Regions from separate parts of the Homo sapiens genome. Here region 1 is linked to region 2. The links come from fine-mapping of genetic effects on gene expression. A gene starts in region 2. The other region holds a variant in brackets. All regions are shown on one strand. Distances are between the middles of the regions.

Region 1 (8,394 bases), 180 kb before region 2:
GACTGCTTGGCAGACCTAGGGTGCCCGGGAAGCACAAGGGATACCCTTGGCCCTGCGGGGTGTGGCCCAGGTGCCTGCCATGAGCCTGACCCCATCGAGGGGGAACCTCAGCCCACCCTGGGCCTGGGGGTGACAAGAACTTCCACAGGTTGGCCCCAGGCTTATAGGAGGCATAAGCAGATCCCGCGATGGCTTGTCATTGTCCCCTGTCCTGGAACAATAAAGCAAGTGCCTTGTGGTCTCACTACCAAGCTTTCATTTCTGGCCCCTCTCCCTAAGCAAAATGGCCAGGCCACACTGATGGCAGATGCCCTGGGCCTGTGACGTCCCTGTCACCCTCACCCAGAACTAGGAAGTTTCTAATCCAAAGAGTGAGGCATCTAGGAAAACTTCTTGACCCACTGGGGAGGCTGAGGAGCAGGTGAGCAGGGCCTCTTCCCAGGAGAACTTCCAAAGAGATGCAGGGAAGAGGCTGCCCTGGCCAGAGGAATGGAGGGGATGCCCTCCCCCAGACCCCTTGCCTCTGAGGTCTGCCCACTCCCTCTTTGCACCCCCATCTCCTCACACAAGAAGGAGTTGCTGCCCTGTCCAAACTGTGCCTTTCTGCTTCCAATCTGTCCCTGGCTGAAAGAGATGCCAAGTGGTTTGGGGCCCTGAGTTCCACAGGTGACAAAATGGAGCATGCCCTGGTGCTGTGTGCACTGCTGGTCCTGGAGAGTGGTCTCTGGATGGTCAGGGGCTCACTCAGTCCCACTTCAGACTCACCCCCTAGGTGTCACCTCCAGGTGGGGTTGGTGTCACCGCAGCACTGTCTCAAGAGAGATGGGGCAGATGTGGGAGCCAAAAGCACATACATGATCCCCAGGTCCCAGAGCAGCCACAAGTGGTGTCTCTGCTTAGAAAGCTCTTCTTGGATGAAGGCTGGGCACGGTGGCTCACGCCTGTAATCCCAGCACTTTGGGAGGCCCAGGCAGGCAGATTACCTGAGGTTGGGAGTTCAAGACCAGCCTGGCCAAAATGGTGAAACCTCATCTCTACTAAAAATACAAAAATTAGCTGGGCGTGGTGGTGGACGCCTGTAATCCCAGGTACTCAGGAGGGAGGCTGAGGCAGGAGAATCGCTTGAACCCGGGAGGCAGAGGTTGCAGTGAGCCGAGATTGGACCACTGCACACCAGCCTGGGCAACAGAGTGAGACTCTGTCTCAAAAAAAAGAAAAGAAAGCACTTCTTGGATGGCTAGGCACAGTGGCTCATGCCTGTAATCCCAGCACTTTGGGAGGCCGAGATGGGTGGATCACTTGATATCAGGAGTTCGAGACCAGCCTGAGCAACATGGTGAAACCCTGCCTCTGCTAAAAATACAAAAATTAGCTGAGTGTGCTGGTGGGCACCTTTAATCCCAGTTACTCAGGAGGCTGAGGCAGGAGAATCACTTGAACCTGGGAGGTGGAAGTTGCAGTGAGCTGAGATTGTGCCACTGCACTCCAGCCTGGGTGACAGAGTGAGACTCTGTCTCATAAAAAAAACAAAGCTCTTCTTGGGGCTGGGCCCAGGGGGCCAGCCAACACCTACCTCTGAGAGGATAGGTCTGCAAAAGACCCCATAATAGAACCCCACCTACCCCAGCACCCGCCCCAGCAGAGGCTGGAAGGCTAGATGCAGGGCTGGTGGGCTGAGGTAGGATAGGGAGTGGGGAAGGCATGGCCAGCGGGTGCACCCAAGAGGAAGGCCCACCTGCCCCAGCCTGGCCCTGGCTGTGTAGGAAGCAGGTGCAGGCTCTTTGCCAAGACCTCAGGCGATGTTGCACACCAGCTCTGTCCAACCCTGGGCCTGTGTCTTGATGACATCCAGGCCCCCAAACACAGGGCAAATGTTTCCTGGGAGAATCCTATTGGGACCCATTTGCTTGCCTCGGGTCCTGAGACTCTGAGAGCTCAGACAAACCTGCCTTATATACCCAGGCTAGGCCATCTCCTCCAGGAGACCCTCTGTCAAAACTCTGGCCAGTGGGCACATTCAGCACACCTGTGTGTGAACTGGCCCCTAATGCAAGAAGACAGGTAGCAAGCAGGTAGGACTTGGGTCTAGTTTTGTGTGTGTGTGTGTGTGTGTGTGTGTGTGTGTGAGAGAGAGAGAGAGAGAGAGAGAGAGAGAGAGTGTAACCAGGCCCTCAGACTTTTTTTAACTGGGCCTCAGTTCCACCCTGAAATGAGCCCCACACTCCCACTCATATGCTGCCCCCTGCTGGCCACCCCATACCAAGCATATAGCCATTATTAGAGTGAGCAACCATCTTTTTAATTTTATTTTTCTAAGTAAATATGGGGTCTCGCGATGTTACCCAGGCTAGTTTTGAACTCCTGAGCTCAAGTGATCCTCCCACTTCAGCCTCTGTTAGGTGCTGGGATTACAGGCGTGGGCCACCGCACCCACCTAATGTTTGTATTTTTTGTAGAGGTAGGGTCTCACTATGTTGCCCAGGCTGGTTTCAAATTCCTAGGCTCAAACAACGCCACCTCCTTGGCCTCCCTAAGTGCTAGGATTACAGGCATGAGCTACCACACCTGGCCAGGGTGAGCAACAATTTGTCTGAATGGATGCAGCGTCTTCAAGTCCGTTATTTGGAGGGAATTAATCCTTTTGCTCAGGGATTCTAAATGTGAGAGATCTCAAATGGATTAGAATTCCCAGGTCAGGAACTTGCATGAAAAAGTTACATCTTCATTTTCTCTCATCCTTACCTGAAATCTAGAATTTCCCTCTATTGTGAATGTCAGCAACAAATCACACTAGCATTGGCAATACCTGTGACTTTGTCAATAGAAATCACAGATATTTTGTAATTGTATTATAGATAGTACAAAATATGTACAAATATATACACATGCACACACATATACACACACATAAAGTAATTTGTCGCTTAACAACAGACATACGTTCTGAGAAATGTGTCCTTAGGCAATTTTGTCATTGTGCAAACATCATAGAGTTTACTCACACGAACCTAGATGGTAGAGCATACTGCACACCTAGAGGCTCTATGGGATAGCCTATTGCTACTAGGCTACAAACCTGTGTGGCATATTAGTGTGCTGAATTCTGTAGGCAATTGTAACACAATGCCTATGTGTGTTTCTACAACACATAGAAAAGGTACAGTAAAAAATACAGTATTGGCCGGGCACGGTGGATCACACCTGTAATCCCAACACTTTGGGAGGCCAAGGCGGGCACATCACTTGAGGTCAGGAGTTCAACACCAGCCTGGCCACCAAGGCGAAACCTCATCTTTACTAAAAATACAAAAAATTAGCCAGGCGTGGTAACACACGCCTGTAATCCCAGCTACTCAGAAGGCCAAGACAGGAGAATCTCTTGAACCCAGGAGGCAGAGGTTGCAGTGAGCCAAGATTGTGCCACTGCCCTCCGGCCTGAGAGACAGATCAAGACTCCGTCTTAAAAAACATATATATATATATATATATATATATATATATACAGTATTATAATCTTATGTGACTGTCGACATATATGTAGTCTGTCATGACAGACACATCGATATCTAGTGCATGATTGTAGATACACACACACACACACACAGTCATCTCACAGTGGTTCCAGGGCCTCCCACAAATTCCAAAATCCATGAATGTGCAAGTAAGTCCCTGATATAAAATGATGGAGTATTTGCATATAACCTACACACATCCTCCCGTATACTTTAAATCATCTCTAGATTACTTATAATACTTAATACAATGTAAATCCTTTGTCAATCATTGTTATACTGTACTATTTAAGGACTAATGACAAGACAAATGTCTGCACATATTCAGTACAGACATTTCTGATGCACAGTTGGCTGAATTCACAGATGCGGAACCTATGGCCAATTGTATATAGTTTTTAATACATAAAATAAATAGGATAGGCCTGGCAGGGTGGCTTACGCCTGTAATCCCAGCACTTTGGGAGGCCAAGGCAGGAGGATCA[T/C]GAGGTCAAGAGATCAAGGCCATCCTGGCCAACATGGTGAAACCCCACCTCTACTAAAAATACAAAAATTAGCTGGGTGTGGTGGCATGCACCTGTAGTCCCAGTTACTCGGGAGGCTGAAGCAAGAGAATCGCTTGAACCTGGGAGGCGGAGGTTGCAGTGAGCCGAGATTGTGCCACTGTACTCCAGCCTGGCAACAGAGCGAGACTCTATCCCAATAAATAAATAAATAAATAAATAAATAAATAAATAAATAGGATAACAATATATTTTATGTTCCTAAAATCCTTTTTATTGTCCATAGGCTTTAGCAGACTGACAACAAGAGAGTCTGTGACACATAGAAAAGTAAAGCAAGGGGCTGGGCCTGTAATCCCAGTAGTTTGAGAGGCAAAGGCAGAAGGATTGCTTAAGCACAGGAGTTCGAGACCAGACTGGGCAACATGGCAAAACCCTATCTCTACAAAAAATTAGCTGGGTATGGTGGCACATGTAGCTTCTGTAGTCTCAGCTACTTGGGAGACGAGGTAGGAGGATTGCTTAGGCCCAGGAGTTTGAGGCTGCAGTGAGCCATGATTGTGCCACTGGACTCTGGCCTGGACAACAGAGCGAGACCCTGACTCAAAAAAAAAAAAAAGGGTAATGTCCTTGCTTTAGTTGCCAGATGGTGGGGAAGTGGAGGGTGACTCTTAGGGGAGGGGCCAGGCTAGGGCGGCCTGGGACAGCAGCTTTTTAACAGCTGGAAGGGAAGATCTTAGTATTTTAACCACTGGTTTGGCAGTCCCAGTGAGCACCTTGCCGGCCAGCCCAGGAGGGCACGAGCTGTGGGTTTCCCTGTGGTACTTGGGCTTTCCTTCTCTACCCAGGGGCAGGATCCTCATGACACCCCTAAAGAGTCAAAGCAGGCCAGGCACGGTGGCTCAGGCCTGTAATCCCAGCACTTTGGGAGGCCGAGGCGGGCAAATCACCTAGGTCAGGGGTTCAAGACCAGCCTGGCCGACATGGTGAAACCCCGTCTCTACAACAATACAAAAATCAGCCGGGCATGATGGCTGGTGCCTGTAATGGGTCCAGCTACTTGGGAGGCTGGGGCAGAAGAATCACTTGAACCCGGGAGGCAGAGGTTGCAGTGAGCCGAGATCATGCCATTGCACTGCACCCTGGAGATCATGCCATTGCACTTCACCCTGGGCGACAGAGCGTGACTCCTTCTCAAAAAAAAAAAAAAAAAAAAAAGAGTCAAAGCAAAAATGACTGGCCCATTTCAGAGACAAAAGGGAATTGCCCCTTCAAGGTCAACAGCTCATCAACATCAGAGCCAAGACTAGCCCCACCTCCACCCTGTCTTCCTCCCAGGCAGCCTCTAGGTTCCTAGGGACAGTGCCAGGAACTAAATGCAGCAAGATGTACCATTTGCAATAGGACTAGTGCCAGAGGCATGAAGACTTAAAAGAAGGCATGGGGCCAAGGCTTTTCCCAACCTAGGCTCCTCCAAGCCCAAGGAACGCAGGCCTCTTTTCAAGGTGAGTGCCAACTGGGTGCCTACTTCAGAGATGAGAACCTCAGAATAGGGACCCTCCTCTCTCTCTGAAGATGGAAGTGCAGCAGGCCCAATCTAGAACCTCAACCCAGTTTTACTTAGCAGCTGCAGTGAGTAGAACTATTATCAGGGTATTGGGAAAAGGTCCTCTTCCTTGCTATACCTTCTCTGCAGACTTGTAACCCCATAAACTACAACAGCAAAATCACCCCTATACTGGCCTTTCTTTCATACCTGTACAGCCTCATCTGCAAACAAATCCCTCCCTTCCACATTCTTGTCCTCATTCTCCTTCTTTACCTTTGTGGCAACTGATAGTTCCTGCCCACTTGCTTTGTGATGAAATTCTTTCCTCCAAAACATGGCTCTGCTCCCACCTCCCTGGAGGCTCACTCCTCCTGTCTCCATTGTTTCCTTTCCTTCCGCCCTGCTCTCAAACACTGGCCTTCCCTAAGGTGATACATTCTCGTTCAGGCACCCTCAATTAGGGGATGGGGATTTGTATTATAATAGCATTGTTTGGGAGAATCCCAGTAATTGCAGGACATTTGGCATTCCTAAATAACAAGAGTGTCAGTGGAGGACCCCATGATCTCAGCCACCATCATAGCTTCAGAAATCACCTTGTGGCCGATGGCCTCGACAATCACCACCTCCAGCCCTTATTCCCCTCCTGGTCTTAGGGCCCACCTTTCCTGTCTTCTGGTAATTTCCTCCATGCCACAGCATGTCCCAGTCTGAAGTCACCCTCTCCTGCTGGCATCCACCTTGATCCAACCTGCATTCCCAAACCCAGTGATGGCACCTGTAGCTACCCCAGCACCCAGGCCACAAACCAGGCAGTCAGCCTCACCTCCTCCCTCTCTCCAACCCACTCATCCAATCAGCCACCACTCCTGAGGATCTCACCTCTTAAAAATATCAGTTTCACCTGTTTCTCTCCATCTTTGAGGATACTGACCTAATTCAGTTTCTCTTTCTCTCTCACCAGATTCCTGCAGCACCCTCCTCATCCTCACTGCCCCCCTGCCTTTAGTATGGTAGTGCATGGAGCCGGACTGCCTGGATTCAAGTCCTGGCTCTGCCACTTCATAGCTGTGCAACGTTGGCTGGGTACATTAACCTCTCTGGACCTACATTTTCTGTAAAATGGGCATCATAATAGTGCCTTCCTCAGAAATGACCATGTTTATGAGTTAACACATGTAGAGCACCCAGCCTGGCACTCAGTAAATCTTGGCTATTAGTGTCATTCTTTCCAATCCACCATTCACTCAGCAGCCAGAGATAATCTGACCAGGTCATGCCCACTTAATCCTCCACAGGGGCTCCCCACTTCTCAGAAGCCCTGCTCCTAAGGCTCTGCCAATCTGTCTTCTTTTCACATCATATTGACTCTTGAACACACCTAGGCTTATGCCCATAATCCTGGCACTTTGGGAGGCCAAGGCAGGAAAATCCCTTGAGCCCAGGAGTTTGAGAGGGAGACCCCATCTCAAATAAATAAGTAAACAAACAAACAAACACCTGACAAATCTTGCCTCTGAGCCTTTGTTTATGCTGTTCCCTGTGCCTAAGCACTCTTCCCCATCAATTTCCATCACAAGCACCTGCTCCAGTGCTACCTCCTCTAAAAATCCTCCCCAGAACCCTCCACACAGAACGACTCTGATTCTTGCTCTCCGTGTCCCCAGTCCTTTTTTTTTCCCTAGGGACGAGTATGTGTTCCTTGTGTCTCACTCATTTCAGAATTCCCAGAATTCAGTGCAGATCCTAGCTCCACCCCACTTCCCCCAGCAAGGGCTTCACAGAATCAAGCTGAATGCCAGCACTTCTGGGCCTCCTAGGGCCAGAGCTCCTCAGCCCAGAGGGTGCGTCAGCTCTGGGCATATCTGAAGGAGGGCCTGAAACTGTAGGGTGTGCTCTCTGCCCACCTCAGTTCCTGAATTTCCTCCATTAAGCAGCCCCCTCCTCTGAGTCTGGGGTGGGGGTGGAGGCTGAGGGCAGTGTTATGTGCAGGGCTACCCAGGCATGGGGGCTCCCCAAGGCAGCTGAGGGCAAGGAGATGGCTCCAGGCCTTAGCCAAAGCCCTGCCACCGTCTATCATGAGGGCTAAAAACACAACCCAGTGGTCCTAGTGGCCTCTGGGGTTCAGGGAAGGTAGCGTGGAGGACAAGGCCAAACCCCCACCCCCCACACCTTCCCCTTGCACCCTGGAGTTCAGGGCCTTTGTTTCGGCCTCTGTTCTGCCAGGGTTGGCTCTGACTTTGGGCCAAAGCTTCCCCTCTCAGGGTCTGGGTCTCCTTCATCACAAGAAAGACCCTCTCCAGCTCCATCATGTTCTAAATGCTGACTCTATATGGTGTCAGGGTACAGAGAATCAGGGGACAGGAAGACTAAGGGGTGAGAGTGCACTGGAATGTGGGAGGTAGGAGAAATTTTTACTGCCTTAAGCACATTCCTGCCTATCCCTGCTCCCTTCTTTGCCCATACACACAGAGGCTGGCCACACCAGAGAACAGAAAAGGAAAAAGTTTATTGAAAACTATATACAGTTGGTCCAGCTCCTACCATGGGCTGCAATCTCAGCCAGTCCCTCCCACACCTTAGGCAGTGTCTTGGCCCCTCATGGGGAGGGATGGGGCTAGGCCTAGGGCCCAGACTCCCTTGGGTGGCTTGGCAGCTGGAGCCCACCGTGGATCTTTGTAAATTTACAACTCTAAATGGCCTGAAGGTAGTGGGCAGGGGACAGGGAATGGATCCCTGCCTGATCTAGTCACAGCCTTGATAGGGGAACACTATTCTGAAACTTGGGCCCAAGTAGGGCCCAGCTAAGTTGTCCGGAAGTCCTGACTGC
Region 2 (8,231 bases):
GCAAGGGGAGTGGGCACGAGCTCTTTCACCCTAGGGAGTTCCAATGCTCCCGACTAGGTCCAGAAAGGTAGCTGCACCCAGGCTGAGGGTATTATAGACACCAGGCATCCCAGGCAGCTGCGTGGACAGGTGTGCTGGGGAGGAGGAGTGTTTTGTGCTCCAGAAGCAGAGAGACATGAATTTGAATCCCAGCTCTCACACTGATTAGCTGTGTGACTTTGGACACGTTATTTAGCCTCTCTAAGCCTCAGTTTAAACATTTAAGTAAAGTTAGTATATATTTTACTGGGTCGTTGTGAAGGTTAAAATGAGATAAATGTCCTATATTCTAAGACACCCTCCCCCCCGCATTTTAATGTCTGAAATCAGGATATATCTTAAGTGATGGACTTTTCCATTCAATAAAGATGATAGTACCCAACACTGCCTGGCACACAGCAAATGCTTAATTAATGGTGCCAACTGTTATCAGTATTACCTTTAAAACCCACAATAAGACTCATCCCTGTAAGCACAGCCAGACCCCTGCCCTGGGGCTCCATGGATGCTATGTGGGGATCTGAGCAGGTGACCACCTTCCCATTTCAGACACCTTAGTCTCTACTCAGAAATCCAGCTGCCACCCTTCTACCCAACCCCATCTCATAGAACTCACAACAACCTTGTTGGGAGAAAAGGAGGGGATACAGGGGCTTAAAGAGGGGGAAATAACCATATAGCTGGTAGGGGCTGAAATGAAGCCCCAAGGGGGTGGTTGTTTACCCTCGCTATGACTACAGAGTTTCCTGGGACCTCCTCTCTTTGTTGTGGGTGTCCCTAACTCACCCCACGGTGCCTGTCCGGTGCTCCTGGCAGGCGCAGGTGACGCGGGGGTGGAAGTCTTTGTGCCCGTGCAAAGCGGCCTCCTTCCTCAGGCACTTAGTGGGAAGGATGGAAGAGAATGGAGCTTCCTACTCCTGGCCCTTGTCCCGCAGCCAAGCGGCCCGGGTAGGGGTGGAGTGCAGGGACCACCCAGAAGCACCAGGCCTAGCTGGGTGGCAGGGCTGGGCCCAGTCCTCTAACTGGTCTGGTGCCGCCTCCTCCTCGCCCACACCCCGGGCTGTAGACTGAAGCCCGACGTGGCCCCGGCGCCTACCTGGGGCAGCTCCGCCAGGACGCGATCCCTCCGCACGGGTGCCAGAATGTTCATCCTGCCTGCGGCCTTGCAGGGCGCCCTGAGAAGGCGCCGAGGCCGGATCCGCGTCAGCGACCCGGGCGCGTGGAGACCCGACGATCACCCGCGGCCGGGGTGTCCCGACTACAACTCGGGGCCACGGGGACCCTACGGGAGTCCGCGGTCTCGGAGACGCTACGACCACCGCGGGCCACGGAGATGAAACAATCACCCGGGGCCGCGGCGAGCCCAAAATCACCCGGGCCCTGGGCGTCCCGAAGATGACTCTGGGGCGAGGAGACTCTTCGGCCGCCAATTGGGGGCGGGGAGTCCCGTCTGGTGGGGGCCGGGCCCGCGCAGACCCTACGATTACGCGGGGCCGGATAGTTCCTACGATTACGCGGGGCCGGATGGTTCCTACAATAACCCGGGGCCGCGGAGACCCGACGTCATCTCGGGGCTGAGGCTGCCCTACCATTACAGAGCGGCCCGGGGGCGCGGAGCGGCCCCGCCACACGGGGTCAGTGTGGGCAGGGGCGGCGCTGCCAAGGCCCGCAGGCCGCTGGAGGAGGGGGCGAGGGGCCCAGTCCGGCTACAGGGCCTCGAGTCCCACTCCGCTCGGGCTCCGCCAACGCTGTAACACGATCCCCGGAAATTCCTGGAGAAGGGCCGCCCCCCGCCCCTCTCCTGGCGGCTCCAGGCCTCGCTGCCCGCCCTCGCCACCCCCTCCTCTCCACCCTTCTGCGTTGCCCCGCTCAGGCTCCCTCTTTTGACGCTTCACCGGGCACCAGGACCGCCCCGACCCAGGCTGGAGCCTATCCAGATAGGGACTCCCCAGGCTGCTCTCCCCTGCACCTCTATACCCGGCTGCGCCTTCATGGGGACCCTTACCCAGCCGAATTGGTGATGGGGAATCGGAGACTGCTGCGCAGCATCTGGCGATGCCAGGAACCAGCAGGGAGGGGAAAGGGGGAGAGAAGGGGCCCAAGGAGAGGCGGCGCTTCCCTCCTCAACTCCAGGCCTGGGAGGTGACTCATAGAGTCTGCCCCCTCTCGCCCTTCTGCCCTGGGAGGTCGGGGGTGAGGATGGTGGAGGGGAAGCGTGCGAAGGGGGTGCCAGGGTTAGAATGAGGTGCCCACCGAGGAGAGAGACGTCTGAAGTCTGGCGTCTTTTCCTTCAAGGCTGCTGTGTAGATTGTGAGGTGGGAGGGCTGAAGATCAAGTTCCCTCGAGGGAGGTTAAAGAAGGGCTAAGTGGACCCGGAAACTCTGCTCTTCGGGGTGGTCTCCGCTCTGGGAGGCGGGGACTCCCCTCTGGTATGGGTGTTCATTGTTCTGGCCCCATTGGAATCTATCCCCCAGGGACAACTCCTTTGTGCAAAGTCCTGCAGGATAGAAGAGGGGGCAGTGCACAATCAATTTCACCGTCAAAGGGGACATGTCTGGTTTTATGAAGGGAGAGGGAAGAAGAAAGGATCAAGTGGGGATGGGTTAGGCACACACCTTAGGAGAAGCGAACCTGAGTGTTAAGAAACCTTTCTCTGTGTCTGGAGCTGAATTTGAGGATGTAAAGATGACCAGGACACGGAAGGGAAGACTAGTTTAGGGCAGGGGATTGTGAGTGAAGTTACTAACCGGAAAAACTAGCGAATCTTGGAGAAATGTGTGGAATTTTCATAGAACTTCAAATGCATTATCAGGAAACGCAGTAAAACTTGACAGTATCAGTGTCGCAGGTAAAGAGGGGCAGGTGTGGCCGCCTTGTACTTCCTCTGACACTTCCCCCTCGTGACTCGATTATTTATTTATTTATTTATTTATTTATTTTGAGACAGGGTCTCACTCTGCCACCCAGGCTGGAATGGCTCATTGCAGCCTCGACCTCCAGGGCTGAAGCGATCCTCCCACCTCAGCCTCCCAAGGAACTGGGACTACAGGCACGCACCACCACGCCCGGCTAATTTTTGTATTCTTTTGTAGAGACAGGGTTTCGCCGTGTTGCCCAGGGTGGTCTCGAACTCCTGGGCTCGAAGCAATTCGTCCACCTCGGCCTCACAAAGTGCTGGGATTACAGGCGTGAGTCACCGCGCCCGGCCCTGACTTGATTTTTTTCTGCCACCAAATCACTGTGTTATTGATAAACCACATTCCTCTCTGGACCTCAGTTCGACCGAGCAAATCCTGCTCCAGCACTCTAGAACTTAGCTGTATCTAACTCCCGAGTCAATCCAAATGTGTTCTTTCCTCTTGGCAGCGTTCCTGCCTCCTGGCATGGCAATCCTCTTCCCTGAGACTGGCAGTTGCTCAAGATAGGAAGCTCCCGGGACCAGACCCGAGCGCCAGCCGGCTACGCCGTCCGCTGGCCTGAGCAAATAAACGCGTGTCTTCAAAAAACTACAATCCCCATGGTGGCACGCGCCTGTAGTCCCAGCTACTCTGGTGGCTGAGGCAGGAGAATGGCGTAAACCCGGGAGGCGGAGCTTACAGTGAGCCGAGATCGCGCCACTGCACTCCAGCCTGGGCGACAGAGCGCTCAAAAAAAAAACAAAAAACAAAAAACAAAAAACTACAACCCCCATGAAGCTTTAGTGCCTTTGAGGGGAGGAGTGGCGCATGTTTGTTCACGCACGAAAAAGAAATTAAACCTAACTACCGTTCCCAGAGGGCGCCGCTCTGCAAATTACCCAATCAGCTCTAAGTACAAAGCATCGCGAGTCTTTAGTGCTCTTTGGCGCTATAAGCCCGTGGGAACGAGCATTGGAGACCCTTTTCACAAGATGGCGCCGAAAGCGAAGAAGGAAGGTGTGTGTTGGTGATGGGGCCGCAGCTGGTTTACCGGGGATTGCCGCGCCGCAGAGCGAACGAATTGGGAACACGGCTGCTGGGCTAAGCCCTGAGGGCTCTGCTCCGGGGCTGCTCCCTGCGTTTCGGACACGCTGCAGTATACGTGGGCCGCGTGGGCCCAGCCTCGTGGGCTGAGTTCCGGTAGAGGGAGTTGGGGGGGGGCAACGCGGCAGGCATCATCCGCCAGGGAGGGCCAGACATTCGGTTCTGGGAAGCTACATGCATCCACTGGTTGGAGCTCCATGTCCCCGGGCCTGTAAGGAATTAGTGCCCTCAGCTTTAACCATTTTCCTTCTGGTTCATGTTCAACCGGGCTACATTACCCGCCCCTCTCTCCGCAGCGTGGTTTTGCGATGGGGTATGTGTAAAATTCGTAGGACATTTTCTGGAAAGTATCAAGCGTTCATTCAGTGCTACTTTGTTTCATAGTCGTATCCCTGGAGTTACTTAGAGTTGGTCGCTTTCGCCTCTGGTATCGTGCATATGATGGAAAAGTTTTAATCTCCTGACACTTGTGATGTCTTCAAAGGAACCACTGATGCACCTGTGGCCAGGGTGGCCCACTGCAGTTCTTGGGGCCGGAAGTGACCGATTTCTAAATCCCGCACCCACGTTTTCTTTCCTTTTCTCCCAGCTCCTGCCCCTCCTAAAGCTGAAGCCAAAGCGAAGGCTTTAAAGGCCAAGAAGGCAGTGTTGAAAGGTGTCCACAGCCACAAAAAGAAGAAGATCCGCACGTCACCCACCTTCCGGCGGCCGAAGACACTGCGACTCCGGAGACAGCCCAAATATCCTCGGAAGAGCGCTCCCAGGAGAAACAAGTCAGTACTGCCCCCTGTACCCATGAAAAGATTTGGGTATTCTCCATTGGTAATTTGGAAATTCACTCACTCTGCGTGATGGTTTCTCAAACGCAAATTGTGTCCAGTGTGCTTCTCTAATTGGAAGTATGAGGAGATTGTTTCTGCTGCATTTACAAAACTGGCAGGATCAGCCCAGAGGCCGGGCGCGGTGGCTCACGTCTGTAATCCCAGCACTTTGGGAGGCCGAGGGGGGGCGGATCACTTGAGGTCAGGGGTTCGAGACCAGCCTGAGTGACATGGAGAAACCCCGCGTCTATTAAAAATAGAAAATTCGCCGGGCATGGTGGCGCATGTCTGTAATCCCAGCTACTCGCGGGAGGCTGAGGCAGGAGAATCGCTTGAACCCGGGAGGTGGAGGTTGCGGTGAGCGGAGATCGTACCATTGCATTCCAGCCTGGGCAATAAGAGTGAAACTCTGTCTCAAAAAAAAAAAAACCCTGAGTCTCTCAAAATTTGTTAGGTTAATTATTGCTTCACATGTGGTCACGGTTTGAAAACTTATTTTGGGGGGAGTATAAAGTAGAATACAGAGATTCCTTGCTCATAGCTCCTACTGCTATCGGGAACAATCCTTGAGGGTGAGAACGTGGATTGATTCTTGATTGATAGTGGGGATTCCATTATCTGTATTTGGCAGTTATGGCCTGCTGCGGTGTATAGAAGCTTCTTTCCATTCATTTTCCCGAATTTTCATACTGCTCAAGGAACAGTTGGGGGGGAATGGGCAGAAGGTTGGGCACTTGAGTATTTGAGCTATCGGTAATAACTGACTTTTTAGGGAGCACAGATTTGAGTAGAGCCATGGTAGTAGTTAGTACCAATGGGTTTTTGCTGCTTCTACTCTTTCTTAACAGAAAAAGTGGATTGTGTTCATATAGGAAAGCAGTTCACAGACTGTCTTCCTGCCCCTCCCGCCACCAAGCTGGACCTAGAATCAAGTGTGACTTTAAATGGGGAAAGCTGTGTTACAGTTGTGCTTAAGCCACTGCTGTGGCTTAACCTCACCTATGCATAAGAATTTGCTCGTGGCTGGCCGGGCGCGGTGGCTCGAGCCTGTAATCCCAGCACTTTGGGAGGCTGAGGCGGGCGGATCACGAGGTCAGGAGATTGAGACCATCGTGGCTAACACGGTGAAACCCCGTCTCTACTAAAAATACAAAAAAAATTAGCCGGGCGTGGTGGCAGGCGCCGCTAGTCCCACTACTGAGTCCCAGGCTGAAGCAGGAGAATGGTGTGAACCCAGGAGGCGGAGCTTGCAGCGAGCCGAGATCCTGTCACTGCACTCCAGCCTGGGCGAAGCGAGACTCTGTCTCAAAAAAAAAAAAAAAAAAGGAATTTGCCCCTGGCCCGATTCTCCTGCCTCAGCCTCTTGAGTAGCTCGGACTACAGGCGTGCACCACCATGACCAGCTAATTTTTGTATTTTTAGTTGAGAGGGAGTTTCACCATGTTGGCCAGGATGGTCACGATCTCTTGACCTCGTGATCAGCCTGCCTCAGCCTCCCAAAGTGCTGGGAATACAGCCATGAGCCAGCACACCTGGCCCAGAGATGATTCTTTAATCACTTGAGGTTGTAAGAGCCCTTCAAGAGAAAGAAAATGCACAACGTTCTGCCCCTGGGATTGGGGCTTCAGGCCCTTAGATTTCAGGGTGCAGATGATGACACTGTAAAGCGACCAAAGTCTGAACAAAGTGATTGGTACCTCGTTGTCTGATGCACCTAGGCTCTCCTGGCTCTGGGCTCCAAAAGAATGGGCCCAGGCCAGGTGACCCCATTTTGCCTCTCCCAGGCTTGACCACTATGCTATCATCAAGTTTCCGCTGACCACTGAGTCTGCCATGAAGAAGATAGAAGACAACAACACACTTGTGTTCATTGTGGATGTTAAAGCCAACAAGCACCAGATTAAACAGGCTGTGAAGAAGCTGTATGACATTGATGTGGCCAAGGTCAACACCCTGATTCGGTGAGTTGGGCCTCAAGGGATGGGGAGCAGGCTGGACCAGCAGTCTGGAGCCAAAAAAACCTGCATTCCATGAAGCTTTTTGATGTTTAGGTAGTCCTGGTAATGCAGGACTACACGTGTAGTCCGAGCTATGCAGGAGGATCTCTTGAGGCCAGGAATCACCCATGATTGCCCCATTGTACTCCAGCCTGAGCAACCAAGCAAGGCCCTTTTTAAAAAAAAAAAAAAAAAAAATCCCCTGGACCTTTCAGCAGGGGAAAAAGGTTCCTTGACTTAAACTTGGTGTAGGTTTAGCAGTGTGTGTGAGCCTTGAGGCAGGAATTACAGGCTGCTTTAGTTACAGACCTTTGTGTGGACCTGAGGCTTTCTAGGACTTGATTGGGGGTTGGTCCTCATTTTCTGGGTCCCTACTTCTATTGGGAAAGGCAACTAGAGTGCGACACGTGGCAGATTACCTTGGTTTAAGTCTTAATGTGGCCTGTGGTGTTTCCCATAAGAGAATTGGCTTTGTGGCTTCATGGTGTCCTCTGGGCTAATGATGGAAAAATCATTATTGGAAAAGAATGACATGAACAAAGGAACCACTGAAGTGCCGGAGGACTGGAGGAGGAAGGGGGAGGGTGTGGGGGCAGTGAGGGTGGCAGGGACTAAGGCTTCCTTCTCTACCCTAGGCCTGATGGAGAGAAGAAGGCATATGTTCGACTGGCTCCTGATTACGATGCTTTGGATGTTGCCAACAAAGTAAGTTTCCTTCCTACAAACCCCTTAATGCTCACCCCTTGGGTGCAAATGATGCATATGTTAGCGACCAAAGCCTGATCTTTGCTGATTAGTCATAATTAACTGACTGCACCCCTATCCTTGACAAACCTTATCCTCACATTCCTCATTTTGCTTTCTAAAAATAACATTCCAGCTTAATCTTCATATTTCAACTCCAGTAACGAGGCTCCCTTTTGTTTTTCAGATTGGGATCATCTAAACTGAGTCCAGCTGCCTAATTCTGAATATATATATATATATATCTTTTCACCATATACATGCCTGTCTGTCAATTTCTGGTTGGGCTGGGAGGCCACACACACACACTGACATGACAGGGCTTGGGCAAGACTCCTGTTCTACTTATCCTTTTGAAATACCTCACCCTGCCACTCCACCATGTATGATCATTCCAGAGATCTTTGTGACTAGAGTTAGTGTCCTAGGAAAACCAGAACTCAGAACTTGCCTCCATGGTTGAGTAACAAGCTGTACAAGAACCCCTTTTATCCCTGGAAGAGGCTGTGTATGAAACCAATGCCCAGGGTTTGAAGGGTGTTAGCATCCATTTCAGGGGAGTGTGGATTGGCTGGCTCTCTGGTAGCATTTTGTCCTCACACACCCATCTACTATGTCCAACCGGTCTG

What was found. PIP is the estimated chance that this variant, and not a neighbour inherited with it, causes the effect.
Region 1: its variant is fine-mapped to the expression of RPL23A in whole blood (TOPMed, PIP 0.96).

Annotation. Positions count from the first base shown.
Region 1 is chr17:28,538,654-28,547,047 of GRCh38, forward strand. FOXN1 (forkhead box N1) reads left to right here. Exons shown (of 9, transcript NM_001369369.1): 9 at 1-247. It overlaps UNC119 (unc-119 lipid binding chaperone), which reads right to left. Exons shown (of 5, transcript NM_005148.4): 5 at 8,055-8,394. Among named protein-coding and RNA genes, the nearest start is that of UNC119, 9.8 kb to the right of the region's middle. RefSeq lists an enhancer at 8,281-8,394. The variant T/C (reference allele first, on the strand shown) is at 3,998.
Region 2 is chr17:28,716,078-28,724,308 of GRCh38, forward strand. It overlaps RPL23A (ribosomal protein L23a), which reads left to right and starts at 3,908. Exons shown (of 5, transcript NM_000984.6): 1 at 3,908-3,953; 2 at 4,630-4,813; 3 at 6,646-6,822; 4 at 7,494-7,563; 5 at 7,790-8,231. The coding sequence starts at 3,929. The coding sequence ends at 7,804. It overlaps RAB34 (RAB34, member RAS oncogene family), which reads right to left and starts at 1,791. Exons shown (of 10, transcript NM_031934.6): 1 at 1,136-1,791; 2 at 826-917. The coding sequence starts at 1,189. It overlaps SNORD42B (small nucleolar RNA, C/D box 42B), which reads left to right and starts at 4,473; the gene lies at 4,473-4,539. It overlaps SNORD4A (small nucleolar RNA, C/D box 4A), which reads left to right and starts at 6,505; the gene lies at 6,505-6,576. It also overlaps SNORD42A and SNORD4B. RefSeq lists silencers at 1,624-1,883, 8,195-8,231 and enhancers at 2,564-3,164, 3,165-3,766, 3,423-3,472, 3,903-4,122, 4,463-4,622.